Homo sapiens: one gene and its partner. The protein of the gene in region 1 interacts with the protein of each later gene in a pairwise test. Each region holds a gene or a part of one and is shown in the gene's direction. Other genes may lie near its edges.

What was found.
Region 2: the proteins of TXNDC9 (region 1) and CCDC172 interact in binary tests that used the Homo sapiens proteins (3 or more experiments, as listed by UniProt).

Annotation. Positions count from the first base shown.
Region 1 is NC_000002.12:99,314,094-99,330,360, reverse strand, and holds the end of TXNDC9 (thioredoxin domain-containing protein 9), read left to right. Parts: intron 1-2,707; coding exon 2,708-2,826; intron 2,827-8,151; coding exon 8,152-8,406; intron 8,407-8,577; exon of another isoform or gene 8,578-9,235; intron 9,236-10,561; coding exon 10,562-10,679; 3' UTR 10,680-11,379; downstream 11,380-16,267. UniProt on the Homo sapiens protein: Significantly diminishes the chaperonin TCP1 complex ATPase activity, thus negatively impacts protein folding, including that of actin or tubulin.
Region 2 is NC_000010.11:116,336,038-116,352,304, forward strand, and holds part of CCDC172 (coiled-coil domain-containing protein 172), read left to right. Parts: intron 1-4,696; coding exon 4,697-4,813; intron 4,814-5,998; coding exon 5,999-6,164; intron 6,165-16,267.

The DNA of each region.
Region 1 (16,267 bases):
GGTTAAATACCTGAGAATAAATAATGAAAAGAAATAGCAGCTTTTTTTTTTTTTTTTTTTTTTTTTTTTTGAGATAAGAGTCTTGCTCTGTTGCCCCGGCTGGAGTGCAGTGGCACAATCTCGGCTCACTGCAACCTCCACCTCCCAGGATCAAGCAATTCTTCTGCCTCAGCCTCCCAAGTAGCTGGGATTACAGACGCCTGCCACCATGCCCGGCTAATTTTTGTATTTTTAGTAGAGGTGGGGTTTCGCCATGTTGGCCAGGCTGGTCTTGAACTCCTGACCTCAGGTGATCCGCCCACCTCAGCCTCCCAAAGTGCTAGTATTACAGGCGTGAGCCACTGCGCCCGGCCTAGAAATAGCAGCTTTTTAAAAGACAAATACTTTTTTTTTTGAGACAGGGTCTTGCTCTGTCACCCAGGCTGGAGTGCAGTGGTGTGATCTTGGCTCACTGCAACCTCCGCCTTCGGAGTTCAAGCAATTATTGTGCCTCAGCCCCCGAGGAGCTGGGATTACAGGTGTGTGCCAACACACCTGGCTAATTTTCATATTTTTTGTAGAGACAGGGTTTCGCCGTGTTGCCCAGGCTGTTCTCAAACTCCTGTCCTCAAGTGATCCACCTGCCTCAGCCTCCCAAAGTGCTGAGATTACAGGTGTGAGCCACTGCGTCCAGCCTAACAAATACTTTTTAAGGGCACATATCATTGGTAAGTTGTGAAAGCAGTCATGAAATGTCATATGTCATTAGGGAATTGTATTTGAGAGTTAAACTGTGTGTAGAAATTTCACATAAGAAAATATCAGGGTATCCTGCAAGTGTCAGCTCGATGTAAATGGATGTGATTTTGACACCGCAGTCATCAATATAGTCTGGGCCACGTTCACTGACGTCCAGAGGAGGAAGGGAGATGGCCCTCCTGGCTCTTTGGTTGGACCCCTTCTGGAGGCTGGATTCAGACCTCTGTCACATTTTAAGAAGACATTGGTGAATTAGAGTGTGTTTAGTTGATATCCTGGAAGAGTAGGAACTCTAGAAATCTTTTCATATGAGAACAGTTAAAAGGAACTGGAAGTGTTCAGTGTGGAGAAGGGAAAACTTAGGCAATATGTGATGTTTGAAGGGCCCACGTGGGAAAGAGATTAAAACTTTAATCTTTATCCAAGCTGGAATCCACAGACCAGAATTATGGATATATTGCAGTTCAGTGTGAGATGACCTTTCTAACAATTAGTGCAGGTATAGAGACTTTTTAAGCATTTATAAAGTGGTTATCAAAAGCAGACAGGGCTCTTGAGCTTCAGAGCTGCAGTATCCTCCTTTTCTCCCCAAGACGAATTGGGTTTATCTCATAAGCATTATTTTTATTTTTATTTATTTTTGAGACAGAGTCTCACTCTGTTGCCCAGGCAGTGGCGTGATCTCAGCTCACTGCAACCTCTGCCTCCTGGGTTCAAGCAATTCTCCTGCCTCAGCCTCCCAAGTAGCTGGGATTACAGGCGCCTACCACCACAGCTAGGTAATTTCTTGTATTTTTTTTTTTTTTTTAAGTAGAGACGGGGTTTCACCATGTTGGCGAGGCTAGTCTGGAACTCCTGACCTCAGGTGATCCAGCCGCCTCAGCCTCCCAAGGTGCTGGGATTACAGGCATCAGCCACTGCACCCAGCCTCATGAGCATTATTTTTAAAAGACTTGTAGTAACTTGGATCAAATGCTTCTGGTTTTAGTAGTTTAAGAGTACATGGATAGAGTTAAGTGGATATTTACATTCTGAGTCTCTCAAGTCTAAATTTTTATTTTGAAAGTTCTGAGAAAATAGATGTTTTAAGCTACAAAGACAGGTAATTGTCTTGAACCCAGGCCATGCTGTGGAGACGTTCACTGTCCGTAGACTAGTTTTGCATTGACAGTAGAAACAGGAAAGTAAATTGCTAAAAAACATTCATTTTTCTTTGACTTCAGCCAGGCACAGTGGCTCATGCCTATAACCCCAGCACTTTTGGAGGACAAGGTGGGAGGATTGCTTGAACCGAGGAGTTTGACACCAGCCTGGGCGATATAGTAAAAACCCCGTCTCTACCAAAAAAAAAAAAAAAAAATGCCAGGCGTGGTGTGGCATGCGCCAGTGGTCCCAATTCCTTGGGAGACTGACGTAGGAGGATCTCTTGAGCCCAGGAGGTTTGAGGCTGCAGTGAGCTATGATCATGCCACCACACTCCATCCTGGGCAACTTTAGCAAGACCCATTCTCAAAAAAAAAATAAATAAATAACACTTTTGGGCCGGGCGCGGTGGCTCACACCTATAATCCCAGCACTTTGGGAAGCCGAGGCAGGCGGATCACAAGGTCAAGAGATCGAGACCATCCTGGCCAACATGGTGAAAACCCATCTCTGCTAAAAATACAAAAAGTAGCTGGACATACTGGTGCCCGCCTGTAGTCCCAGCTACTCGGGAGGCTGAAGCAGGAGAATTGCTTGAACCCAGGAGGCGGAGGTTGCAGTGAGCCAAGATCGCGCCACTGCCCTCCAGCCTGGTGACAGAGCAAGACTCCGTCTCAAAAAAAAAAAACAAAAACAAACAAAAAAAAAACTTTTTTTTTTAATTGACTTCATTACAAAATACGATGGTGATTTGGACACTTAAAATGTCAAGTGGTTCTGAAAGAGATATCTCACATGTGTAATGTTTTGCCTCTCTCCAAATTAGGAATGGCTTTCTAAAGGACATGGGGAATACAGAGAAATCCCTAGTGAAAGAGACTTTTTTCAAGAAGTCAAGGAGAGTGAAAATGTGGTTTGCCATTTCTACAGAGACTCCACATTCAGGTAACTTTGTTTCCATCTGTGACTTTTTCTAAAAAAACACAGTGAATTGTTTGGCTGGAGATATACTGGCTTACTAGAGAAATGAAGAAAACTAAAAGAAAAAACTTCCTAAGTTGTTTCATTGTACTCTCTCATATGTTATTTAGTATTAAGTTAAGCAGGCAGGGGCCCAGTGACTCAAGCCTGCAATCTCAGCACTTTGGGAGGCCAAGTGGGGGGTGGATCACTTGAGGTCAGGAGTTCAAGACCAGCCTGGCCAACATGGCGAAACCCTGCCTCTACTAAAACTACAAAATTAGCCGGGTGTGGTGGCAGGTACCTGTAGTCTCAGCTACTGGGGAGGCTGAGGTGGGAGAATTGCTTGAACCCAGGAGACAGAGGTTGCAGTGAGCGGAGATCGCGACACTGCACTTCAGCTCGAGCGATAGAGTGAGACTCCATCTCAAAAAAGAAAGAAAAAAAAAGTTAATTGTTATTTTAAAGAGTAACTTAAAGAACAGTTACATGCAAAAGTATAAATGAATATTACTGAAAGTCAATATTCCCATATAAATGGCTTATATTTTTGAATTGTATTTTCACTAGCTAACTAAAAACATCTTAGAAATGTACACTTAAAATTCTTATCACCATGACAGTAATTATTTCCCTCTAGTATTGTGATGTAGCCATGATATTGGGAACGGGCAACAGCTGTTGAGAGTCAGTGTTCCTTCAGTTCCTCCTTGAAGGAACTAGCAACTGTGGTGGGGAGATGGTGGCTTGGCCAAACCTTTCACCAGAGCAGAGTTGGGACTGCCAGTCTTGGCTAGAAGGAGAAGTGATTTTTCTTAGACCACCCTAGGTCTCCAAATTTCTCTAAGGAAGCAGATCTCTTATAAAATGTTAATACCTCCTCAGAAGAGGTCACATCGTAAACCAAAGGACCCAAGCCTTTGTGGTTTTTTGTGCACAGATTTGATTAGTTGCCAACACTTAAAAATCGAGAGATAACTCCTTTTGAAAATATCCACACTTAGAATTTTTCTTTAAAAAATCAGAAAACTTGCTAATAGCATAGCTGGAACTATGATGGCAGTCATCTGCTGACTGGCACCTGCCTACCCAGGACAGACAAGCACTGTGCTCTAGAGTCTCTGGCACTCACTGTGGTTTCAGCCCTGCTCTCTTTCTCATTTCTGTGGCCTTCTTGCCCCTTTGTCTTGATCTCACAACCCAACAGCTTCATTGTTAGTTAACACCTTTCAAGAATTGATTGCCTGGTATTCATTGACTAAGAGAATAAAAATGAAACAAAATATTGAGATGGTGAAATCCCTTGTGAGGAACAGTGAGAGAAGGGATTAGGCAGGTAGAAAGGTATCAGAGAAACCTCTGCCCTTATGGTACACAACCATCTCGCATTGGCACACATTCCTCAAGTTGCCAACCTCTGACAAATATGATGAGGTGATATATAAATATACTAGTATGTAAAATATTATTTGTCCACTTGTTTTTTTTTTGTTGTTTTTTTTTGTTTTTGAGACAGAGTCTTACACTGTCACCCAGGCTAGAGTGCAATGGCAGGATCTTGGCTCACTCCAACCTCCACCTCCCGGGTTCAAGTGATTCTCCTGCCTCAGCCTCCCGAGTAGCCAGGGCTACAGTCACCCACCACTACACCCGGCTAACTTTTGTCTTTTTAGTAGAGACAGGGTTTCTCCAGATTGGCCAGGCTGGTCTCAAACTCTTGACCTCAGGTGAACCACCCACCTTGGCCTCCCAAAGTGTTGGGATTACAAGTATGAGCCACGGCACCCGGCCTCACTTGTTTTTTTTATGTCTTTCCCAACTAGATTGTTCGTTTTGTAGAGGCAGCGCATTTGCCTGTATTGTGACCTACTGTTCTCTGGGATCATAGCCCTAAAGCAACTGCCTGACGCATAGTAGGTGGTCAATAAATACATTTGATGGTGTATAAACAGTGCATCACCAGGAGTACTCACCTTCAAACAGAACTGAAAAATCAAAATCATCCAGTGAACTTTATATATTAGCAAAGTTCCTAGCACATAGTAGGCAGGATGCTTTCATGTATATTATCCCTAGAACATTCACAATAATCTTCAGAGGCACTTATTATTATTCCTGTATTTCATGTATGGAAACCAAGATTTGGAGAAATTGACTCACCTAGTATCACTCAGATACTAAATGATAAAAAAAAGAGAGAGATTGGAACCCATGTTTTAAGCCTATTGCTATTTTTTTAATTTTTAACTTTTGTGGGTAGTAGTAGGTAAATATGGGGTACATGAGATATTTTAACACAGGCATGCAGTGTTTAATAATCACATCAGGGTAAATGGAATATCCATCACCTCAAGCTTTTATCCTTTGTGTTATAAACAATCTAATTATGCTCTTTTAGTTATTTTTAAACATACGTAAAGGCCTATAGCTATTTATACCATGACTGTTGTTTTGGATTTTTAAAAATTGATTGACGGGTTGGGCGCCATGGCTCATGCCTGTAATCCCAGTACTTTGGGAGGCTGAGGCAGGTGGATCATGAGGTCAGGAGATCAAGGCCATCCTGGCCAACATGGTGAAAACCCATCTCTACTAAAATACAAAAAGTTAGCTGGGCATGGTGGCTCGTGCCTGTAGTCCCAGTTGTGCAGGAGGCTGAGGCAGGGGAATTGCTTGAACCTGGGAGGCGGAGGTTGCATTGAGCTGAGATCGTGCCACTGCACTCCAGCCTGGCAACAGAGCAAGACACTCTGTCTTGCTCTTTAAATACAAATTAAAATTAGCCAGGCAATGGTGCGGGTGCCTGTAATCCTAGCTTCTTAGGAGGCTGAGCCAGGAGAATTGCTTGAACCCAGGAGGTGGAGGTTGCAGTGAGCAGAGGTCGTGCCACTGCACTCTAGCCTGGGCGACAGAGCGAGACTCCATCTCAAAAAAAAAATACGTTCCTTACTGCAGTTAAAGTATGGAGTTGATTTATTTACAAATTTTCAGGAACATATTTCTCATATAAAGGTTGATTTATCATTTGTTTTGAGCTTTATTTAAAAACCATTTATTAATTTGTTCTCTCTTACCATTTTTCACTGAAATCTCGTTACTGAACTACATGAGTAACATATGAAAAAACATATCCGGGGAAAAAGTGATGAGGCACCAAGGTTACACATAACTTATGTTAGAGCCAAACTTAGTTCAGGAAAAACTACATCAAGTGCACAAAAAGCTTACTGGTAAAAATAACCATGAAGTATTTTGTGTGTGAGTCATCTAGAGGTAGTTCTCAAGCTTTATTTGAGCATAAGAACAGCTGTATGTTTCCCAACTCCACTGCCAGAGAATTTTGATTCATCTGGATATTTTAAAAGTTGACGGCAGGCTGGGTGTGGTAGCTCACACCTCTAATCCCAGCACTTTGGGAGGCTGAGGCAGGTGGATTGCTTGAGGTCAGCAGTTCAAGACCAGCCTAGTCAACATGGTGAAACCCCATCGCTACTAAAAATACAAAAATTAGCCGGGCGTGGTGGCAGGTGCCTGTAATCCCAGCTACTCGGGAGGCTGAGGAAGGAGAATCGATTGAACCCAGGAGGCAGAGATTACAGTGAGCCGAGATCGCGCCACTGCACTGCAGCCTGGGTGACAGAGTGAGAGTCCAACTCAAAAAAGATGAATAAATAAAAGTTGATCATAATGAACACCTGGGGTTAAGAACCACCGGTCTAAAAGATTGTTACAATAGTCTGTTTTAGAAACACTCGTGAATTGGCCAGTTGAAAATGAATTTTTTGAGACAGAGTCTTACTCTGTCGCCTAGCCTGGAGTGCAGTGGTGTAATCTTAGCTCACTGTAACCCCCACCTCCCAGGTTCAAGTGATTCTCGTGCCTCAGCCTCCTGTGTAGCTGGGATTTCAGGTGCCCATCATGACGCCCAGCTAATTTTTGTATTTTTAGTAGAGATGGGGTTTCACCATATTGACCAGGCTGGTCTTGAACTCTTGGCCTCAAGTGATCTGCCCGCCTCAGCCTCCCAAAGTGTTGGGATTACAGGCGTGAGCCACTGCATCAGGCCAGAAAATAAATTTTAATGTAAAGAAGATGTCACTTTTTTTGTTTGTTGAGATGGAGTCTCACTATGTTGCCCAGGTTGGAGTACAACGGCACAGTTTCGGCTCACTGCAGCCTCCACCTCCCAGGTTCAAGTGATTCTCCTGCCTCAGCCTCCCAAGTAGCTGGGACTACAGGCATGCACCACCACACCCAGCTAATTTTTGTATTTTTAGTAGAGACAGGGTTTCACCGTGTTGGCTAAGCTGGTCTCAAACTACTGACTTCAAGTGATCCGCCTGCCTCAGCCTCCCAAAGTGCCAAGATTACAGATGTGAGCCACCGCACCTGGCCAAGAAAATCTCACTTCTGTTTCCGTCTTCATTGGAAGATGGCTTAATAAAAGTTACTACTGGTAGGCTGGGTGCAGTGGCTCACGCTTGTAATCCTAGCACTTCGGGAGGCCGAGGCAGGCGGATCACAAGGTCAGGAGATCAAGACCATCCTGGCTAACACAGTGAAACCCCGTCTCTACTAAAAATACAAAAAATTAGCCGGGCATGGTGGCAGGCGCCTGTAGTCCCAGCTACTTGGGAGGCTGAGGCAGGAGAATGGCATGAACCAGGGAGGCGGAGCTTGCAGTGAGCCGAGCTTGTGCCACTGCACTCCAGCCTGGGGGACAGGGCAATACGCCACCTCCAAAAAAATAAAAAATAAAAAAGTTACTACTGGTATTTTTTAATTTCCTAGAAGCATAATGGCCACATTTATTTAAATATTATTAGTAACCCTTAGCCTTAATGTGCTTCTTACTGACAGCGTTGCATATTTAGGAGTAAGAAGTTTTTCCTCGGTAATGCTGTTCAGTTTTTCTTCATGACTTCCAAATATGGCACCATGTGTGCACTTCTGATTCTTGTAAGTCTCTTCCGAGTTTTGTCAAGTTTCAGTTTGTTCCTCTTCAAGTTTCCTGTGTAGGAGATAGGACAACTTCCTTTATGACTTAAAGCATATATTTAATATTTTAAAAGAGAATATCATTAATGCAAATCTGACTTTCTAGAATCTTATAGGCTGTTTTCCCATCTCGTAATCAGGCAGCTAACCTCTGATCTGGAAGTGAGGTCATCTGACACAAGTTTAAGTTGGCTGCCATGTTATGAGAGTCAACAGAAAAACTACATAATTAGATTTCCCTTGATGATATTTATTTTGAAAAAAGCGATCTGTGGTTTTAGCTTATAATTTTCTATGTGTGGTCACTTACAGGTGTAAAATACTAGACAGACATCTGGCAATATTGTCCAAGAAACACCTCGAGACCAAATTTTTGAAGCTGAATGTGGAAAAAGCACCTTTCCTTTGTGAGAGACTGCATATCAAAGTCATTCCCACACTAGCACTGCTAAAAGATGGGAAAACACAAGATTATGTTGTTGGGTTTACTGACCTAGGAAATACAGATGACTTCACCACAGAAACTTTAGAATGGAGGCTCGGTTCTTCTGACATTCTTAATTACAGGTAACTTTTAACAAAAGAAGAGATTGATTTTAATTCATATATAGTTGATATTTTTACAAAAGATTTTTGTATTGTAACATTTATTTTATGAAATTAAGGCATTTTGGCTGAGATGTGGAAAGTTTCTCAAAGGAAAAGCATGTTTTTTTGAAGTGTGTAATATTAGCGTGATTTTACGGCAAAATCAGATTTACAGATTAAACTGATTTAATAGGTAAAACTGAGTCTCACCGTACTCCTGACTATAAAAGTTTTCAGCTTAACGTATACTATTGACACTAATTTTGTATTAATCTGGAAACTTAAAATGGCAATCCAGTGTTGACTATTCCCCAATTTAAGCCAGATTGCTCAAATGAATTCTGACTTAAGTGATTCTCTTTGATAAAATAAAAATTAAAAGCAGACTCTTGCAAAGAAAGTTATATTTTAAAATACTAGATTTTTAACATGGATATTTCTGTTTTACTTATAGAGGCTGATGAATAGAAAAAGGTTTCTATGCCTAGCTTACATTGCTTGCTATGAAGAACAGTTTTAGTTTGAAAACAATCTAAAATCCAACTTCCATTTCTTTGTCCACTTCTTCAGACAAATAATTTATCTAATTCCACAAATCAGAGCATATCATCTTGTCTTTTTTGCCTTTTCTTGATTTGCAAAAGTAACAGGTAAAATTGTGCACTTACCATTCCAGAGTCATGGTGCCTTTCAGGAAGTAGAAGGTTCTCTCACGTTTTTCTTTCTCCCCCATTTCCCTCCCGTCTTTTCTCTGACTCTCCTAGACATGCCGAAATCATTCCTATGTTGTAGAAATTGGTTTCATTTCCTTAATATTAACATAAAATATTAATATTTATTAAATAAAGTTATATATTTTGAAGTAATTTTAAGCCTTAAACAAATTGCAGCCGGGTGGGGCACTTGTGTAATCTCAGAAGATTACAGACTTTGAGAGGCTGAGGTGGGAGAATCAGTTGAGGCCAGGAGTTTGAGACCAATTTGGGCAACATATAGTGAGATGAGACCTCGTCTCTACAAAAAACTAGTAGAAACAACCCCCTGCAGACTAGTACAACGAATCCTCATTGACCCTTTGCCCATATTACCCAATTTTAAACATTTTATATTTGTTTTATCATTGTCTTTATAGATACTATGAAGTATTTTGGGAACCATTTGAGTGGAAATTGTGAATACAGTGTCCCTTTACTCCTAAAGACTTCCATATATATTTTCTAAGAACAAGAACATTTTCTTACGTAGCGACAGTACAATTATTGAAACAGGAATTATTGTGTAATTTACCGCTCTTATTTCAAGTTTTCTCATTGTCCCAATAATTGTCCTTCATACCAAAAATGCAGCACATTTAGTTATTACGTCTTTAGTTACCATTGTTATTCTTTGGTTCTTAAGACTGATGTTTTTGAAGAGTACAAACTGTTTATTTTGGAGAACATCTCCCAGTTTGGGTTTGTCTTAAATTTCCTCAAGATTAGATTCAGATTATCGATTTTTGACGGGCATATTATGGAAGTGATGCATCATATCGGGAGGTGTGTGATGGTTTCTCTCATTTCCGGTGACAACTGAGCACTGTGTTAACCAAATGTTAATCCATAATTAATGATAAAAAGGAAAATAGGTCTGGTGCAGTGGCTCATACCTATAATCCCAGCACTTTGGGATGCCAAAGCAGGAGGATTGCTTGAGCCTAAGAGTTCAAGACAAGCCTGGGCAATGTAGTGAGATGTCATCACTACAAAAAATGTAAAAATTAACTGAGCATGGTGGCACACGCCTGTAGTCCAAGCTACTCGGGAGGCTGAGGTGGGAGGATCGCTTGAGCCCAGGAACTGGAGGTTGCAGTGAGCTGTGATCACACCACTGCACATCAGCCTGGGCCACAGAGTGAGACCCTGTCTCAAAAAGAAAGGAAAATAAAATTGATCTAAAACATTCAGTAGGACACAATAAGGTTTAAGGCTATTAACCATCAATATCAATATAAGCATTATACCTCTTCCCTGACACCAGCATTTTAAAGAAATTTTATTCTATGTTACAGGAAGAAAACAAAGATAGATTTTTGTGCAGTTTAGTATACTAGTACTAAATCATAAAGAATAAAATGCTTTTTTTTTTTTTTAAGTGGAAATTTAATGGAGCCACCATTTCAGAACCAAAAGAAATTTGGAACAAACTTCACAAAGCTGGAAAAGAAAACTATCCGAGGAAAGAAATATGATTCAGACTCTGATGATGATTAGAGCTCAATAATTCTTTGTAAATTGTCTTTTTTTTTCTGCTTCAGATTTAAATGTGTTTTTAAAATTCTATTAATGTCTATACATTGGTCACCTAAATACTCATATTCTCGAGTTTTATACAGTTGTATCACATCGAAAAGTGTCTTTACTGTTTTCTGTGTGGCCATCATGTTTAAGTTGAGGAAAACTCAGTTCTTAAATTATCTGGGAAGGGTCTGGATTCTCTATTTTTGAGATTGACTTTATCACAATATGATTCTTACATCTTTATACCATTTACAATTGTGTTTTAGATCTACAGAGTTAGAAATTCGAAAACTATTCCAGGACTAATTCTTAATCGGCATTATTTATACAAGAGGTCAAGTAACATTTACTAGCGCAATACTGCACTTGTAAATGAATTATAAACGCTCTTCTGGAATATATTTAAATAACCATTAAAGAACTGCTTATTCATTCTGGACACTGCATGTTGATGTTGAATCAACTGATGCCAGCAGAAAGCTATTTTGATTTGTGAACATACTGCCTTATTTAAAGGGTCCTGATTGCTTGTATTTTAAGACATTCATTAAAAAGAAACCAGGAAACACTTTTGAAATAACAGCATAAGGAACTTCACTGTCTCTGCTCAATAAAATACCTGTAACTGGAAGTTTATGTGGAAATTGTCATAAAAGCATACATCCAACAAAAACAGTTTTTCAAGAAAGTCAATCTTTTAGAATAGGGAGTCTGTGGCATTGGAGCCATGACCCCATTCCCTCTCTCCAGTTCCCAATCCTGGACTACAGTTTCTCCTCTGGAAGAGTAGATTATTAGCATGCCTCATTCCCTGAAGCTCTGTGTTGCAGAAGCCCTTTTGCAAGCAAGAGTAGCCAAGAGGTTTGGCACTCCTTCCTCCACCTAGTCCCCACTTACAGCACAGAAACTCTAACCCAGGAATATCAGACTGAGAATACTGGGCCTTAGTTGCTTTTGCCCCAGCTTACTCATAGGATGAAGGCTCTTTACTCGTACGTAGAGTGAAGGTTCCATGCAAGGAGATGCACTTGGAGGAGACCAGGGGTTATATCACCCCTTTCCCCCTTGTAGACTGTGAGTATAACTCCTAGAAAAGCAGGCCACTGTCCCCACCCGTAGCTCTGGAGCAGCAGAACAGAGGTTCTGTCCAGTGGAAATGGCAAGTCATAAAAACAGCTCTGGGCCGGGCACGGTGCCTCACGCCTATAATCCCAGCACTTTGGGAGGCCGAGGTGGGTGGATCACAAGGTCAAGAGATCAAGACCATTCTCGCTAACTTGGTGAAACCCCGTCTCTACTAAAAATATTTAATAAAGGGACTGACTAGAATAGAATGAGGGAAGATGTTGAAGTGTAAAGGTGCCACCAAATACGTTGGATCTGGGGAGGGGAGCAATTAAGAGCGTATTGACAGCTCCCTGATGGCAACAAGCAAAAGGGAATGCCAACAAGCTCAACAGAAAGAGCCTGGCACGGTGGCTCACACCTGTAATCCCAGCACTTGGGGAGGCCAAGGCGGGCAGATCACTTGAGGTTAGGAGTTCAAGACCAGCCTGGCCAACATGCTGAAACCCTGTCTCTACTAAAAGTTTAAAAATTAGCCAGGCATCATGGCACGTGCCTGTAATTCCAGCTATTCAGGAGGCTGAGTCATGGGAATCGCTTGAACGCGAGAGGCAGAGGTTGTAGTGGGCCAAGATCACACCACTCCACCCCAGCCTGGGTGACGGAGTGAGACCCTGTCTCAAAAAAATAGAGGCAGCTGTTATTAGTCCTAGGTTTAAGACAAGCCTCAAAGATACTCTACAGGGGCCTGAATTTAACTGGATTAAACTGCGGCGACTTGTGCCCCAGAGCATTGTCAGAAACAAAAGAGTGGCCAGGTGTGGTGGCTCATGCCTGTAATACCAGTACTTTGGGATGCGGAGGCGGGAGGACCACTTGAAGCCAGGAGTACAAGACCAGCCTCGGCAACATAGTGAGACCCTGTCTCTATAAAAAATGAAAAAAAAAATGAGTGGTTAGCTAGTAAATTAGTGGGTGCTAATAGTAGGATGTGATAACAAAAGAGGTTCTAACTAACTAGAACCTTTCCCGAAAGATCAGGAAAAGGTAAAAGAGAGCCCTATCAAAACCACTGTCCTTGGGGCTAGAGGGAGTAGTCATGGTGACTGCACACGCCCAGACTGTACTCTGAGGAGGGACATCAGAGCCTGCATACTTCAGGGTAAGTGGACTTAACTGAAATCATCCAGCCAAGAAACTAAACAAGAAGAAATGCGCTGGAGGGCAGAGGGTAGGGGTTGGAGGGAAATTACTATCCAGAGCTGCTGTGACACAGTGTCTAAAATATCCAGTCCTCAACAACAAACTACAAGACATACAGAAGAACAGGAAACTAATCCATACAAGGAGCGAAAAAGCAATCAAAGGAAACTGAGAGGGTCAATAGGTTGGAAGCAGATAAAAACTTCAAAGCATTATTATAAGTGTGTTCCAAAAAAAACTAAAGGAAACTGCTGGAAGTAAAGGAAGGTATGCTTACAATATTCCATCAAACAGAATATCAACAAAGAAAGGAATTTAAAAGGGCCAAATAGGCTGGGCGCGGTAGCTCACGCCTGTAATCCCAGCACTTTGGGAGGCCAAGGCGGGCGGATCACGAGGTCGGGAGATCGAGACCGTCCTGGCTAACACCGTGAAACCCCGTCTCTACTAAAAATACAAAAAATTAGCCGGGCGTGGTGGCGGGCGCCTGTAGTCCCACCTACTGGGGAGGCTGAGGCAGGAGAATGGCGTGAACCCGGGAGGCGGAGCTTGCAGTGAGCCGAGATTGCGCCACTGCACTCCAGCCTGGGCGACAGAGTGAGACTCCATCTCAAAAAATATATAAAATAAAATAAATAAAAGGGCCAAATAGAAATTCTAGAGTTCAAAAGTAAAGTAACTGTAATGAAAAATTCATTAGAGGAGCTCTACAGTAGATTGTGTTCACAGTAGAAAGAATCAGCAAATTATTGGAAGAAATGATGCCTGAAAATCAAATATTTGATGAAAACATTAATCCAAGATCAAGTTGTAAGATAACATAGAAAGATGCATACCAAAACTATAGTGAAAACAATGAAAGAAAAAAATCTTGAAAACAGAAAAAAAAACTACTCATTGTGTATAAGAAAACCCATTGGCCCAATGCTGTGGCTCACTCCTGTAATCCCAGCGCTTTGGAGCTTGAGGCAGGAGTGCTTGAGGCCAGGAGTTCAAAACCAGCCTGGGCAATATAGTGAGACCCCATCTCTACAAAAAATTTTTAAAAATTAGCCAGGTGTGGTGGCATCCACCTCATAACTACTTGAGAGGCTGAGGCAAGAGGATCACTTGAGCCCAGGAGTTTGAGGCTACAGTGAGCTATGATTGCACCACTATACTCCAGCATGGGCAACAGAACAAGACCTTGTCTCTATTTTGTTTTTTGTTTTTGTTTTTGTTTTTTCATTTTTCAGTGTTCTTAAGTTTAAAACAAAAAAAAAAAAAAAAGAAAAAGAAATGCAAAGCTTTATTTTATGAGTCAGAGGACTTGATACTAAGTCTTAAGATTGTAATACTGCCCCTGCCAAGTTAATCTGCAAATTCAACAAATTCAAAAAAACAAAAACCTCCACTCCCAGATACCTTTTTGCAAAAATTGACAAGTTGATCTTAAAATTTATGTGGACCCAGAGTAGCCAAAATAATCTTGATAAATAACATATTTGGAGTACTCACTCGGATATCAAAACTTAGGGCAAAACTACAATTATAAGACAGGCATAAAGATAAGCGAAATAAAAGTCCAGAAATAAACCCTTGTGTTTTGTAGTCAGTTGATGTTTGGCAAAAGTTCCAAGACAATTCAAATGGGAAAGAATAGTCTCTTCAACAAATGGTTTTGGGACAAGTAAATATTGACCCCTCCTTTATGCGATATACAAAAGTTAAACTCGAAATGTAACAAACACCTAAATATAAGAATTAAAACTATAAAACTCTAAGAGGAATATCTAAGGGTAAATCTTCACGACTTTGGGTTACACAAAGCCTTGTTGATGTGACAAGTCACAAAAGAAAAATAGATGAACACCAAATATAAAAACACTTGCTGCAATTGATACCAACAGATTAGAATAACAACTCAGAATTGGAAAAATATTTGCAAATCATATATCTGATAAAATGTATCCGGAATGTGTAGAGAATTCTTTCAACCCAATAAAAAGAATATAAATACCCAATTTAAAAAATGAGTAAAGGGGCCGGGCGCGGTGGCTCATGCCTGTAATTCCAGCACTTTGGGAGGCCAAGGCGGGCAGATCACGAGGTCAGGAGATCGAGACCATCCTGGCTAACACGGTGAAACCCCGTCTCTACTAAAAATAAAAAAAAAAATTAGCCGGGTATGGTGGCATGCGCCTGTAGTCCCAGCTACTCAGGAGACTGCGGCAGGAGAATGGCATGAACCCAGGAGGCAGAGCTTGCAGTGAGCCAAGATCGCGCCACTGCACTCCAGCCTGGGTGACAGAGTGAGACTCTATCTCAAAAAAAAAAAAAAAAAATTAACCAGGCGTGGTGGTGGGCGCCTGTAGTCCCAGCTACTCGGGAGGCTGAGGCAGGAGAATGGCATGAACCCGGGAGGTGGAGCTTGCAGTGAGCCGAGATCATGCCACTGCACTGCAGCCTGGGCGACAGAGTGAGAGTCCGTCTCAAAAAAAAAAAAAAAAAATGAGTAAAGGATCTGTACGTCTTCCCAAAAGAAATGGACAGTTGGGCAGTAAGTACATGAAAAGATGCTCAAATCATTAACTGTCAGGGAAATGTAAATCCAAACCACAATGACATCCCACTTTGCACCAGCCAGGATGATTATAATAAAAAAGGCAGACAACATGGTGAAACCCCGTCTCTACTAAAAACACAAAAATTAGCTGGGCGTGGTGGCATGCGCCTGTAGTACCAGCTACTCAGGAGGCTGAGATGGGAGAGTTGCATGAACCCAGGAGGTGGAGGTTGCAGTGAGCCAAGATCGCGCCACTGCACTCCAGCCTGGGTGACAGAGTGAGACTCTGTCTCAAAAAAAAAAAAAAAAAAAGGTGTAGTATTTGCATGTAACCTGCCACATATTCTCCTGTACACTTTAAAACCTCTCCAGATTATGTATAATACCTAACACATTGTAAATGCTATATAAATAGTTGTTATACTGTATTGATTAGACAATAATGACAACAAAAAAAGTCTACACCTAATAGGTACAGACAAAGCCAGATATTTTTCCTTTTCTGGAATATTTTCCATCTGCTGTTGGTTGAATCCACAGATGCAGAACCCAAGGATATGGAGGGCCAAAGAAGCATTTACAGAGGAAGGACAGTGTAGATTCATGAAAACTAAGGAAGGAGATTTGAAACAGGAAGACTTGATTCACAGTTTTAAAGGCTGCAAAGGAGGTAAATTGAAAAAAAGACTAAGAGGCCATGTGAAGGTCATCAAGCATCATCCAGAGAGAAATTCCGCAGAGCAATCAG
Region 2 (16,267 bases), on another chromosome or scaffold:
GCCCCTGTAATCCCAGCTACCCGGGAGGCTGAGGCAGGAGAATTGCTTGAATCCGCGAGGCGGAGGTTGCAGTGAGCCAAGATCATGCCACTGCACTTCAGCCTGGGCGACAAGAGTAAGACTCCATTTCAACAACAACAAAAATGTATATTTAATATGTATAAATATTATATTATATTATACATGTATTATATTTTATATTATATATAATAGTATGTAGTATATATTATATGTGATATTATATATTATATATATTACATATGATACATACGTAATAATAATAAGGCCACTGTGGCTGGAATGGGGCAAGTGAGGAGGTGACTGATAGGAGAGATGGCTGGAGAGGGAGTGGGGGTGAAAATCATGTAAAGCCTTATAAGCCATTGTCAGGAGGTTATTTCCTTCCTTGCTAACTATATTAGGATTATTATGTCATAGTAAGTTATTCTTTAAGCATTGCCTCTGTGATTTGGAAAAGTATAAAGATAGATCTTTTTTACAAAAACCTTAATATCTGCTATCAATACAATATTCATTAATGTACCTTAGTATTTAGAATGTCTTTTATCATATAGTCATAATAATGATATATTTTTCCCAATTGTTATGGTTTTAGGTATGTGAAATTTTCTACGTAACTCTTAGTTTTTTTTTTAAATGTAAAATTGCCTATTATGCTATGGGGCAGATTATTTAATCAGCAAAATGTCAGTTCCTCAAGGCCGAGATTATTTTTAACAACAGCAACCACAACAAAGAGGACCTATGTACTTTGCTTGCTTGGACCCTAACATTAATTTTAAATCCTCAGTCATTTTCAATTTTTAAGTTCTTCTGGCAGAAAAATACCTAAAGGCACCCAGGCAGCAAGAGTAGTGAAAAGTCACAAATCATGGCTTTGCTGAAAACTGACCTAGTTGACCAGATAAGTCAGCTCACTGGGAAAACTATAAGCTCCATTAAAAAATCAAATATCCCAAGAGGAATAAAACAAGGAAAGGAAAAACAGTCTTTATTGCTGAGAGAAGCAGAATTAACCAGGGAGTTGGCACTACTATAAATTAGAATTTTCCAAAACAGCAGTATTTTCTGACAAAGCTTGGCTATGTGATTCTAGATTTTTTTTTTTTTTTAAACAAGAGTTTCACTCTCGTCACCCAGGCTGGAGTGCAGTGGCACAATCTTGGCTCACTGCAACCTCTGCCTCCCGGATTCAAGAAATTATTCTGCCTTAGCCTCCTGAGTAGCTGGGATTACGGGTGCCCCCACCACACCTGGCTGATTCTTGTATTTTTAGTAGAGGGGGATTTCACCATGTTGGCCAGGCTGGTCTCAAACTCCTGACCAGGTGATCCACCCGTCTCGGCCTCCCAAAGTGCTGGGATTACAGGTGTGAGCCACTGTGCCTGGCCTATCACTTTAAGGCTGTGTGCAAATATATTTTTTCATTTCTAGTAGGAGGACAGATAGAAATGAAAAAGAGAAAATTTTATCACTGCCATTAGGAACTTCCCACCCTTTTCTTCATATTGTCTGTATTCTTTTGGGATCTTAGTGGATAACTTAGGACACAGAAGCAATGGATTTTTAAGTTTTTGTTTACTATAAAATAAATGTTCAAGCTACATAGATATAAAATATTGCCTCAGTTCAAACCTGACCCGATATATTTAGAAATATTTTTATGTCACACTCTAACATTTTATGTATTATCTTCCCAACTCTGATCTCCACCTTTGTAACAAAAAAGAGGTGAGAAGATTTTCTGATGATTATTTATTCATCTTTTGATCCTATCAATACATTCAGGGTTATATTTCGAATATTTACTTAAATTTTACATATCAGTAGATTTAGTTGTCAAATGCAGGAACATAAAAAATAACTTAAGAAATCAGTTGGGACAACAGTAAGAACAAAAGGAACCATCTGAAACATTCTACGAATAGGAGACTGTGAAAAGCTATTTTATTTCTGAAGAGTTAGTAACTTAACAACGAGGAACTGGGCAGATTCAAAAGTTTTTGTTTCCTTAGTTCCACTAAAATATGAAGGCAATATATTAATAATAATAGGCCTCATCTAGCTTCTGCAACCTTGATCTGTTGATGTCCTTAACAATGTGAAGCAGTATATTATAGGCCTCTATTCTTGTCCTTCCTGACTTTAACTTTCCCAAACTCCTGCCGCTTTCTCCGTCATTCTACTTCTCATACTTACCAAGACTTTTGTATTAACATTTTTTAACCATAGATCCTATGTAAATTTGAAGATTAATGTACCGTAATCTTTCTGTAGTTATTGACTCTCTGGGACTCTTTAGATCTGGATTAAAAGAGACAAATATGGAAGTAAACAATAAAGACAGAAGGTAAGACAGAAAGGGAATGAAGAGGAGATAAACTAATAATAAAAATAAAAACAAAGAAGCAGAGAACTTAAAATGGATGATTTACATAAAATTTTAGGGAAGAGGAAAATTATGGATATGCCCTTTTTATAAATCTTTAGAACAGCTGTCTACTTTTTAGTTTTTGGGATATAGATTTCATTTTTTAGGTAATGGTGAAATATTCTGGTTAAGTGCCAATATGTCACCTAGCTCTTCTTAATATTGGTTATTCTCCCTTTTAAGAAAGAAGACGTGGGCTCAGTGGTAATTTAAGCTCTTAGTCATTGATAGCTGAAAGATAGCACCTTAATTTCTGAGTCCTTAACATAAGGCTTTCCTGAATTTGAATAATAGATTTGCTTAAGTCTCATTTAGAAATCCGTTAGTTTGATAAGTAATATTTTCCTCATTTTTGAGTTTTGGGTTTGACATAGATCTTTTACAACAGATCAGTGGTATACATGGACTTAGAATTCATGAATTGCGTTTCTGAAGGGCATAATACTTGAAATACCTTAGTAGATTAAACCCACATTTATCCAGTGCATTATTTGGTCTCTAAAGCATTTTTTGTGGACATTCCTGGGCAGTGTCCACAGCAGTAACTCAGAGTTAGGTATATACTGCAAACACCCTTCTCAGTAAGCTCTGGTGGATCTAGGATTTGGTAATTTCCTTAAATGTTTATTAACCTTATATATTTTCAACTCACCATCACACCTCAAAGTCTCTTTTTAGCTCTAGAATTATCTTTTCATTACTTTGAAATAGTTCTGACATTTCCATGCTCACATCATGATTTAGAAGAAAGAAAGGCAGAAGACCTGAATTTTAGTCCTGGATTTGCCTCTAATTAGTTATATAGCCTTTGTTAAGGTGTTTAACTTCTCTGGACCTCATTTTATTATCATTTACATAATAAGCATTAAATAGTCACAAAATATTTTTTATTCTGAATAAATGTGGTAGATTTCATGATCATACCCTAGTTTCCCCTTGTTATAAATTTCTATATGATTTTATAGATTTGGCCATATGTTTTCTAATTTCTGTCTTCTGAGACAGAAAAATACTAACCACCCTATTATTCCTTCCCCCAATCTCTAAAATATTATCTCAGTTCCTTTGATTATGTGAATTGTACCTCTCTAATCTTTCTCTATTGATGCCTTTCTTAAAATTGGGTTGATGAAAACAGTACCAAGTACTGAAGATATGGGCAGATGGGCTACGATCTTATATAAATGTAAGATCATATTTTCTGGTTTTGAAAATTTGAGCAACTTTTTTAATGTCAATATTTCTAGGACATTTTAGCCATAATATTTCAAACTGTCTCTTAAGCCAACCCTTTTGCCTCTGGACTAGACTATTTCTAAGCTCTTTACTATTCAATATTGTCTGGGACAGAGATTTCACAACCTGTCTCTCACCTTGAGGAAGTTCTTATAACTACCATAAATCTTGCTTTCTGCAATTTAAGTTGAATTTATATCCTTTTTCTTTTCCCTGTGGAGATGGGAACAGCCCCAAACTGGAAACGATGCTTTCTTATGAGGGCTAGTACTGAACATAGTAGAAAAATTACAGTATTTCCAGTCCAGCATCATTTTTAGCTTTCATATATTAAAGCTTCCTAACTTCATTTCAATATTCATCTCAGGAGATGTTATTTTTTAAGTTCCAAATGAAATAACAGTTGCATGTCTAACATTAATGTTTATTATACCTTTTGCTACTTAGAACCAAATGAAGTATTAAAATAAAAAATGAGTTCTCAAAACCCATTTAAGGTCTTTAGCAGACTCGTTTTTTATTTGATATAACTATAATCATGGGACTGGGTTTTTGCCTCTGCTTTGCAGATTTTATCTTATTATTTTATTAGTTATATTATGTACATGATTTATTCATTCATATATTCCTTATAAACTGTGAAAATAGAAACTTATTATCTAAAAACAAACAGTCTTAAAGCAGATTTCAATGTGTGTATTCAAAAAGCGTTAGTACCTAGCTAAGAATTCTTCTAGGTATTGAGAGGAAAAAGAAAGCACATTCTCTGCCCTTGAGGAGCCTATAGTCTTATTAGGGGAAGAGATTATAAAATTGTAACTATAAAGTACTTAAAAAATAATACAAGATAGTGTATATAAAATAAGATGTTTGATGCTAATTTTATTTTGCATTTTAAAGATTAATACAGAATATATTTTATACTAGACAAATCTTCTCTGTTACCTAAGGTACTCTAAAATGTCTAATTAATTGTTTTATTCTGATTTCTGTTTTTGTACTTTGAAGGTTCAACAGTTTTTTGAAAAATCCTTCTTCTTACAGCTTTTGAAAGCTCATGAAAATGCTTTAGAAAAACAGTACAGTGAAATTACAAACCATAGGAATATGCTTCTTCAAACCTTTGTAAGTTTCCAGCCACCTAGAAAAATCTATTTCACTAATATGTAAAAAAGTATTCAAATATACTTAAGTATACTTTTAGAAAATTATCCATGTGCATATTAGCAGGTAGTACTGCTCAGATACAGGAAAGTATTAAGTGCTATTTAAAACCAATTGGTAGAGTAATACAGTTTGAAAGAAGTATATGGGCAGGGATGTAATATAGCAATTATTTTCAGTTGTAATAAGCACAAAAGAAACAGTGGAACTGATTTGAATTGCTCAAGCATTGAGACCTTGGATAAAATCGTTTTGAAAGGCAGAAAGTTTCACACTTTAGGCATATTTATGGATGTGGCTAAAAGGATGGATATTGTTAATCTTTTTCTGTTAACTCAGAGCCAACAGCCTGAGCAATAGTTTTGAATGACAGGGCCAATTTAGAAATATGACTTGTGATTGACATTTTAAAGAAAATACATTTAAAGATATTAAAAATACATATCTGAAGTCAGAACCAACACACTTGGTGGTTTGAAATGACGTGGCCAGTTTGAAAATGAGGCTTAAAATTCATTGACATAGCTTAGAAAAATATGGTAATGTTTATATTCTAGCATTGTCAAAGAGTTTAGGTTTTTGCATTGTCCACAGTTTTTGGAAATTCTTATTTCTCTGCCATGTTGATACTTCATAAAATGTAAACTATTATTTAAAACTGATTTTGAAGTGAATATATAATTTTGATTTCATCATCCACATTTTAAAAGGTTTTCTTGGCTATCCTTGTTTGTTTGTTTGTTTTCCTGTAAGGCAGTAATCCCTTTAAGTGTAAATTTTAGTTTTTCAGTTTGGCCATTTAATTACTTTACTCTCCAGTTTTATATTATAATTATAAAATGTAATATGATTCTGAATTTTAATACACAAATAAACAGATATAATGATGAGTGGTAGAATATCTACCTCAATAATTCTCCCAAAACTTTAAGATTAAATCTTTCATCTGAAGATAGTTGTTACTATATAATAGCTTCAGTTTTTTATTAATATTACTATGAGAAAAAAACATTTTTGCCATAAAACCAGGAAGTGTAACTATATACTTTCATTGTTAATAATTCCAAATTATTATATTTTAAATAATTAAGGAAAAATATTATTGCAACTAACACCTATATTTGATCTTTTATTTATGTTTTTCAGGAGGCTATAAAGAAACAAATGATAGAGGAGGAAGACAAATTTATTAAGGAAATTACAGACTTTAATAATGATTATGAAATAACAAAGAAAAGAGAGCTTTTGATGAAAGAAAATGTCAAGATTGAAATATCTGACTTAGAAAACCAAGCAAACATGTTGAAAAGTGGTATGAATAAATATCACCTCATTTGTCTTGCATTAATGAAAATAACTTATTTTGAATGAATGAATTTTCCAAAAATTTAACTTTTTCATGAGCAAATTGGGTTATTGCATAGCGATTCTTTTACTTTTATTGATTTAATGAAGATGTATCTTCTATTGTGAGCAGTTTCAAATGATTTAGAAGTACATGTGACATGAACATTTGGTCATTCATTTAATAAATAAATATCTGTTATGTGATAGGCACTGTTCTAGGTCTTGAAGATATAACAATAAAAAGTGGAGGAAGAAAATATGTAAGCAGACATTTACAGCACATTGTGATGGAAGCTACAGTAGGGGTTAGGATTGGTGCCCTAATCCTCTAACAATCCAGGAGAAGCTAGGAATAAGTTTACACAGTGGAGTGGAGAGAGTTTTATTTCAGGAACACTAGTGAAGGTTTGGGTCTGTGTCCCCATGCAAATGTCGTGTCAAATTGTAATCCTTAATGTTGGAGGTTGGGCCTGGTGGGAGGTGATTGGCTCATGGGGGCAGGTTTCCCCTTTGGTGCTATTCTCATGACATTGAGTGAGTTATCATGAGATTTGGTTGTTTAAAAGTATGTAGCACCTCCTGCTTCTCTCTGTTCTTCCTGCTCTGGCCATGTAAGATGTTCCTGCTTCCCCTCTGCCTTCCACCACGATTTTAAGTTTTCTGAGGCCTCCCCAGCCATGCTCCCTCTATAGCTTCCAGAACCATGAGCTAAGTAAATCTCTCTTCTTCTTCTTCTTCTTTTTTAATAAATTACCCAGTCTCGGGTAGTTCTTTATAGTAGTGCAAGAATGGACTAATACAACTAGTATGTGGGTTATTGCAATCTTTGATAAGATCCTGAATTAAAGCAGTTGCCAAGTAGGGAAAGTCAAGGATAAATCAGTTTTCAAACTTCAGAGATTCTATTATAGCATTAGCTTAATGTCCAGTATTTCCTCATCTAAACTAGGTTCAATTGCACATGAGGCTCCTTGGATGTAGTTGCTTATGTAACTCCTTGAGTACATGTCCTCTTGATCTGAAGACCTCAGCCAAAGAAACAGTTGCCCTTCATATTCCCAATATACTATGGTGAGATAGGCATAGGATAATCACTAGTGATACTTCTGTTCAGAAAGCAGAAAAACTGGAGTCATTGTTATATAGCAATTCTGAAATTGAGCCAGGCAAGTATTGGACATTCCTTGATTAGGACTCAGTCATCCTCCCTCCTGGGAATGATTCCCCATGACTCTTGACACTACTCTCTGTGCTCCTATTTCCCTTCTCTGATCATTCGTTTTTTTTTTTTTTTTTAAAAAAATATATATAAAAGATAGCTTGCATTTGCAATTGTCCTGTGCCTGCTTCCATTCTGTAAAAGTTGCGTATCATTCCTTTTTTTTACTGCCTCTGTCCATTTCAGTCCAAGCTCACTGTGTTCATGTAAATACAGTGCTCTTAAAAACTTTGTGGGTCTCACGTGAATCCTACTGAGGCTCACTTCATTAGGGAAAAGCCACAACTACAAATTTCTTTGAGATAAGCCCTTTTATACTTTGGCCTTTTGCTAAAACTACTGAGACAATATTCTTAAACTTCTTGGCCCTATACTTTGACTGAATGGTTCTCTGAGGCATCACCTTGGATTTTTCTGAGGTTTTAGGAAAGGCTTTTTAATTCACATGCTAGATTTAGTCTTTATGATTTCTTAAGAATATTGGATTTTTTTCTTTACCCTCAAGACATTTCTTAGTGGTGAGAATGAAGACAGGGAGGGCATCTTGTAGTAAGGCTACCAAAGTTGTTTATTTTAATTCCAGAACAACCATTAAGGAAATAATCCAAAAACAAATAGCTAAAAGGACAATATAGAAATTAAAATACACATTTAATCTGAAAGAAAGTGGGAAAGGGAAAGAGGGGAACAAAAACACAGAACAGACAGAAAACTAATAATAAAATGATACACTTGAATCCATTTGCAATCATGCATCACTTTAATAATGGGGATATGTTCTGAGAAATGCATTCTTAGTCAGTATCATCGTGTGAACATCATAGATTGTACTTACACAAACCTGGATGGGATAACCTATTACACACCTGGGCTATATGGTATAGCCTATTGCTCCTAGGCTGTAAGCCTGTACTCAATGTTACTATACTGAAGACTGTAGGCAGTTGGAACACAATGGCAAGTATTTGTCTACCTAAACATATATAAATCTAGAAAAGGTACAGCAAAAATACAGTATAAATGATTTTAAAAATCTCTATAGGGCACCTTTATAGGGTATTTACCATGAATGGAGCTTGTAGAGCTGGAAGTTGCTCTGGGCGAGTCAGTGAGTGAATGGTGTGTGAATGTGGAGGCCTAGAACATTACTGTATGCTACTGTAAACTTTATAAACACTGTGTATTTAGGCTACACTAAGTTTGTAAAAAGAATTTTTCTTCCAAAGTAAATTAACATTAACTTCAGCTTACTGTAACTTTTTTACTTTATAAACCTTTTATTATTTTTGACTCTTCTAATAACACTTAGTTTAAAACACATGTTGTATGAATATACAAAAAATTTTTTTCTTTGTATCCTTATTCTACAACTTTCTTCTATCTTAGAAATTATTTTTTTACTTGAAACTAAAAAAAAAAAAAAAAACCTAAAACACAAACATGCACATTAGGCTTACACAGAGTCAGTATCACAATATCACTGTCTTCCACCTCTACATCTTGTCCCACTGGAAGGTCTTCAGGGACATGGAGCTATCATCTTCTATGAGAACAATGCCTTTGTATATGGAAATACAAATGACTTACAAAATCAAAACAATTTTAAAAAGAATAAAATTTAAGGATTTATATTCTGTGATTTCAAAATTTACTCAAATTCTATAGTAATCAAGATAATGTGTCACTGCCTTAAAAATAGGCATATAAATAGCTGGAACAGAAGAGTCCAGAAATAGAAATGCATATTGTCAACTGGTTTTCAACAAAGATGGAAAGGCAGTTCAGTGGGAAAAGGAAAGTATTTTCAATAAGTGGTGCTAGAAGAATTGGACATCCATTGCAAAACAATGATCCTTAACTCTTCACACCGTATTATAAATTAACTCAAAATAGGCATACACCTAGACACAAAAGCTAAAATTATGAATTTCCTAGAAGAAAACATAGGAGAAAATCTTTTCCATCTTGGAATAGGCAATGATTTCTTAGATGGGACACAAGAATCATGAACCGTAAAAAGAAAAACAGATTTAAAATAAATTGAAAAGACACTTAAGAAAATTAGAAGACAGACAACAGTCTTGGAGAGAATATTTGCATTAAATATATCTTCCAATGTACTGTTATCCAGAACATAATGAACTCTAACAACTTAAAAAATAAGAAAGGCAAAAAGCCAATTATAAAAGGGAAAAAAGTTGAACTTCACAATAGAGTACTAATGGCCAATGAACATGTGAAAAGATACTCAATATCTTTAGTCATTTGGAAAATACAAATTAAAACGGCAGTGATATATCACTGTATATCCACTTAATTAAAGTTAAAAAGACTGACCATACCAAACGTTGCTGAGAATGTGGAGCATCTGATACTCATATGGTAGTGATGGGAATGTAAAATTAATGGTACAATCACTTTAGAAAATTGTTTTGCAGTTTCTTAACAAGCTAAATGTACATTTACCATACAGCCCAGCCACTCCACAATGAGATACTCCAGAGAGATGAAACCTATATCCTAACGTTTTGGCAGTTTTATTCACAGTAGTCAAAAATTGAACATAACTTAAATGTCCGTTAAGAAGTGAATGGTTTCGGAGGCCGAGGTGGGCGGATCACAAGGTCAGGAGTTCAAGACCAGCCTGGCCAACATAGTGAAACCCCGTCTCTACTAAAACCAAAAAATTAGCCGGGCGTGGTGTCGGGCACCTGTAATCCCAGCTACTCAGGAGGCTGAGGCAGAAGAATGGCTTGAACCCAGGAGGCGGAGGTTGCAGTGAGCCAAGATCGCGCCATTGCACTCCAGCCTGGGTGACAGAGTGAGACTTCGTCTCAAAAAAAAAAAAAAAAAAAAGGAAGTAAATGGTTAAACAAAATTGACATATCTATGCAACGGAATACTTGGCAATAAAAATGACTAATTCTACTGATGCACTACATGGACCTATTTCAAAATAATATGATGATTAAAAGAAGCTAGACACATGCAAACTAACGTAAAGCCATGGCAAGCAGATCAATGGTTGCCTGGGTCAAAATGAATGAACTGTGAAGGGTCACAAATAATCTTTTGGGTTGATAGAAATGTACAGTTTCTTGCCTGTGGGTGTTTCATAGGTGTCAGTGACTGTCAAAAGTCATGAAATTGTATGCTCTAAATGAATATACTTTATGTAAATTATTCCTCTTTAAAATTAAGAAAAAAAAAAGTCCCTGATATCACAGATGCTATTGGAGCCCTCTAGTTTAGTTCTCTTTTTCTAGAAATATGGATTTATTTTAAAAGATTTGTTTTCAGAGTACCTGATATTGTTGATTTTTTATTCTTTCAGAAAGTCTGTTTCTAGGTATTTCATAACATTTTCATATAAAACTTTAATCTTTTTAATAGCAGGGACTTTATTTTGATTAATGTGCTGGCCCCAACAGTATGAATGAGATAATAATAAATTGATGACTGCTTCAAAAGGAGAAGCACAAGATGATATGAGAACATATATAAGTAGACTTAAACTGGACTAGGAAGTTAAGGAAGATTTCCCTGAACAAGTTGCCTTCAGAGTGAGGTCTGAAGAATGATACTGATTAGCCAAGTGAGAGATTTGAGTGTAGATGTCAATTAGATAGTTGTAATTTAAGTCAAGAGCTCAGAGATAGTTCTGGGCTAGAGCTATTAAATTTTGGGACTCACCTAGAGAGAATGTATTGAAAGAAAATGGACAGTACCCTGCAGAACCTCAGGATTTTCAAAAACTTGAGTGAAGAGTCTAAGACGGCTTCATGAAAGATGGGCAGAACACGTTACTGAGTGGAGTTGACATCACCTAGGGAGAGAGTATTTGAAGGCATGATCAACCCATGTTGATTGCTGCTGAGCTGTCAACTAGAATAAGGACTAAGAAGCAGCAATCAGAGGTCATTGGTGGCCTTCAGGAAAGGGAGCAGATTGAGGTAATAAGCAGGGCAAAAGCCAAATTGTAAGGAGTTGAGCAGAAGGAAGAGCAGAAATGGGATATCTATTAATAAAATTCATTACATTAATAGATTACAGTTGGAAAAGCATATGATTGTTTTTAAAAAGGCGATGTAGAGGGAAGGAGGGAAAAATGGTGGAGGAGAGGTGAAAGGAGAGGAAGAAGGAGAGGGAGAGCTTCACTCTGACATCATGATTAACAATGAAACTCTAGAAGTATTTCCATAAAAGTTAGTAATAAGGGAGGGTATCCAATATCATCACTATTATATAACAGTGTTCTAAAAGTATCAGCCAGTAAAATTAGAAACACAGTAAATATTGGAAAACAAAGACAAAATTGTCATTAGTTGAAGCTGATACAACTTGATTTCACTGGGTTTTCTATGTTTAGTTGCATCCTCCACCATTCTTCCCTCCCTCCCACTACATCTCCTTTTTGAGACATTCATATTTCCAACTGTAATCTATTGATGTAATAAATTTTATTTATATATATCCTATCACTAACCTTACTTAGCTGTGCACTCTTAGTCTTCTAATGTATTACTGAATTTTATTTGATAACATCTTCTTTAAGATTTTTGCATCAGTATATGTGAGATTCATCTTTGTGTGTGTATTATGTTGATTTCACAAAAAGCATACTGACGCTTTTTTCTTTCTCTGCTTGGAAAAATGTACGTACTATAATTATCTATTCCTTCAGGGTTCAAAAGAATTAACCTATGAAACGGTTTGTGGCAACTCTTCTTGGTGGTGGTGGTGGTGGAGAAAGAAGTTGTTCAAATTTTAAGCAGATATTAGAGCTGTTGACTTCCCAGAGCAGTTTAGCTTCCATTTGTCTTCTTACCTGTCAGTGTTTGCTCTTCCATTCCCACTTCTAATTCGTGCCACCACATCTGTTATTTTCTGGCATTTGACTTTTCTCCTCTTTCTTCCTTCATTCTGACCTTGCCCACTGAGCTTTTAGCCCATAACTATGATTAGTCAGCCAGTTTCATTGGGTTTTGAATAATCTCCATTTTTAACTTCATAGCTATTTTTATATTTATACTATTTTCTGCTACTCAGTGTTTTTTTCCCACTGCCAGATATTATCTTTGATTTATTATTTTTTAACCACAGGATTGGAGCCTATTCTTACTCCTTGAGATTGCCAAAATGTGAACATCCATTTTTAAAAAAGATATTATTAATACTGTACTATTGTATTAAGCCTCTTAGGTTATGTTCTGTTTAAATATGGCAAACCAAGCTTTCCAACCTGTTTTGCCATCCCTGCAGCATCTAGTGCCTCTCCACCTTCCAGCCTCACCCAGCAGCTTCTTTGTGCTAAAGGCATGCTGCCCTCTTTTGTGTTCCTAGATTGTACCCTGCTTCCTCCTGCCTCAGGACCGTTGACTGTGTTCTATTTGGAATACTTTTTTAATCCTTTATCTAGTTTGTGGGTCCCCAACCCCTGGGCCAGTACTGGTCCGTGGCCTGTTAAGAAGTAAGCCACATAGCAGGAGGTGAGTGGCGGGTGAGTGAGCAAAGCTTCATCTGTATTTACAGCAACTCCCCATCACTCACATTACCACCTGAGCTCTGCCTCCTATCAGATCAGCAGCAGTTATTAGATTCTCGAACATAAACCCTCTCGTGAACTGTGCATGTGAGGGATGTAGATTGCATGCTCCTTATGAGAATCTAATGGCTGATGATTTGCCACTGTCTCCCGTCACCCCCAGATGGGACGGTCTTGTTGCAGGAAAACAAGCTCAGGGATCCCACTGATTCTACATTATGGTGAGTTGTGTGATTATTTCATTATAGATAACAATGTAATAAAAATAGAAATAAAGTGCACAATAAATGTAATGCAATTGAACCATCCTGAAGCCACTCCTCTCCCTCCCGTGGTCCATGGAAAAATTGTCTTCCACAAAAACAGTCCCTGGTGCCAAAAAAGGTTGGGGACTGGTGATCTAGTTAACTTTTTCATTCTTCTGATCTCAGCTCAAATGTTACATCTTCAGGAAATCCTTCTGTGATACTCCACCCTCCCAATTCCATATTAGGTCAGCTCTTCTGGTTATATTCTCTCATTGCCCTCTGTGCTTTTTCTTCAAAGCATTGTAATTACACACTTGTATGATTATTTGATTCCTGTCTGTTTCTTCCACTAAAGTATAAATTTTCACAGAGAGAGGAACTACATTTGCTTACAAATGTATTTCTGAAATGTGCTTAGTTTGTTCACTCATTCAGTAATACTTGTGCACTTTTTGTGTATCAGGCATTGTTATAGGACCTGGTGTTACTGTAGTGACCAAGAAAAGAAGAAAAAAATCCCTGCCCCCATGGAGCCTACATTCCAGTATGAGAGAGGGAGGGAGTGGAGAAAAATAAGGGAGGGAAGAGGGATAGATAGATAAGGGGTGGGGTTGCAGTGGGGTGTGTGGTACAGTTTTACATAGATGTCCAGGGAAAGCCTCATTAATAAGGCGAGTTTTGAATAAGACCTGAAAGAGGTAAGGGAATCAAACAAGTGAATACCTGGGGGAATATCATTTCACAGAGAAGGAATAGCTGATGCAAATCACCTGAAGGGAGATTGTGCCTAATCATTTTTTGAGAAAGAGCAGAGCCTAAGGCATTTAGAGTTAAAGGAGAGGTCATGAGATCAGAGAGGTGACAGGAATCCAGATTTAAAACCTTGTGGGTCATTCTAAAGACTTTTACTGAAGTGAGATGAGAAGCCATTGGAGGACTTAAGCAAAAGAGCGAAGGGTCTCACATTTGAATAGGATTACTTTGACTGCTATTGAGAACACAGTTAAGGGAGGTAAAAGCAGAAACGGAAACCTAGAAGACAGTGGCTGTAATCCAGATGAGAGATGATGAGCAGTTGGATCAGGGATGCAGCATAGAAGTGGTAAGTGGTATTCAGGTTCTAAATATGTTTTGAAGGTAGCAAGGAGGATTTCAAGATGGACTTGATGTGGAATATGAGAGAAATAAGTGTTAAGGTTGACTTTAAGGTTTTTGGCCTGAGAAACTAGAAATGTGGAATAATTGATATTCAATATATCTGTTTGTAAAATGAATATTTATTTTAAACATTTGGTAATTCATAGATAAAACAGTTCATCACTTTTGGCTTCAAAATAATGGTTGTCATAATGTTTTTCTCAAAATGTTCCTCTTACTCATTTCTCCGAGTTGTTGAATTCATTTTTCTTAGATGTGAGATAAGCAATATATGACACTTTTCTTTGCTTGGCAATATCCTTTAATGATTGGCAATGTACATATGAGGAAGACAATTCACATGTTAAAAGATGTAAATTAATTTTGATTGTCTTAGTTGGTTTAATATTCATAACCATAAAAGCTAGCTGTTGATTAGAACATTGTGGGTTTTAGGCCGTGGAAGAAATTAAAAAGTGATTGCCACATCAATTATACCTAAATAAAGCTGTAAATAAAAATAACAATAAAATAATAGTGAGGCAATAAACAAGTAGGAAAAAAAGTTATCACCACAAACACAGTGTTTACTTTTTTCTGTTCTATAAGCCTGATAAGAAATTGGCATATTTGTTTTATTTTTTTCTTTAAAGGATTAATCTTTAGACTTACCTTTTTCATTTAGGCTAAAGTGTCAGGATTAAGAAAGATATATTTCAGAAATACTTAAATCCAGTATTTCTCCATCATTCTTGCCTAAGTTTTACAAAGATTTTCTTGTGATAGAATGTCTGATAAATCAATTAATAATGAATAAAATATTGTATCTTTTTTAATCTGTTGAATATTGTGTTATGGTATCCTGGATTCCCTCTATTGAATATTAATATGTAGTTATATTTATATTTTAAACTTTTGTTTATTAAGGGAGCAGAAGGATAAACATGAACGTATTTTCTTTTCATTGAATTGTCCACTTTCAGTTACCTACACTAGTGGACAGAAACATTGTGAATAATCAAAAATATTTAAAGTCAATTATATGATTTATTTTAGTTTTGTTCAACATGCTTTCTTGAGCATCTACTGTATATACTACACCAGGCACTGTTCAGAAATTGGGATTTAAAGATGAATGAGGCATAGTTCCTGTTTTCAAGGAGCTTGTGATCTAATGTGGAAGAGAGACAAGTAAAAGGATAATTTAAATATTATGTGGAGAACTTTTACGTATCGTCATGAGGAATAATTTTATGGAATTTTCCCTTCTATCACAACTAAAAGACTGGAGAAAATTATATGAGAAACTACTTTTAGATATTGAGGACAAGAGAGTACAGGACCACGATCCCTGAGAGAAGGGAAACAAATGAGGTAAGCCCTAATTGCCCAAGCCTTCTCACTGGATATAGTTTTTGGATAGTAGCACTGGGAGGAGGAACTTAAGCAATGCAAAATGGTCTGAGTTGAGGAAACAAAGATTGGAATTTAGGGAGGCCAAGTTAGCTAGAATTTTCAGGACAATGTACTTGAGAGGACAGATCCACACAGAGAAAAAGCTCTGGAAATCTGGATGGAGATCCTCTTGAGTCTTTGGATGTACTTGAACCTGTGTATACAGACAGGAAACCCCACTGGGCTGAGTAAAGAAAAACTACTGGGGAGCAATAAGGTGGACAATTCTAAGAGCTCATATGGGAATGGAAGACATTCATGTTCCATCTTGTCACAATAGAAATATTTCATTAAACAGAAGAGTTCTGCCTTAATAGAAGGATTAAATTAAATTAAATATTCTTCTAGACCTACCCTAAAAAATTCTTATAAACAAGATTTGCACATGACCCATAAGTAGCTTACCTGCCTACTAAAACAAACATCAACATCCTTTATGGGAAGACAGCAAAACTCATTTAACA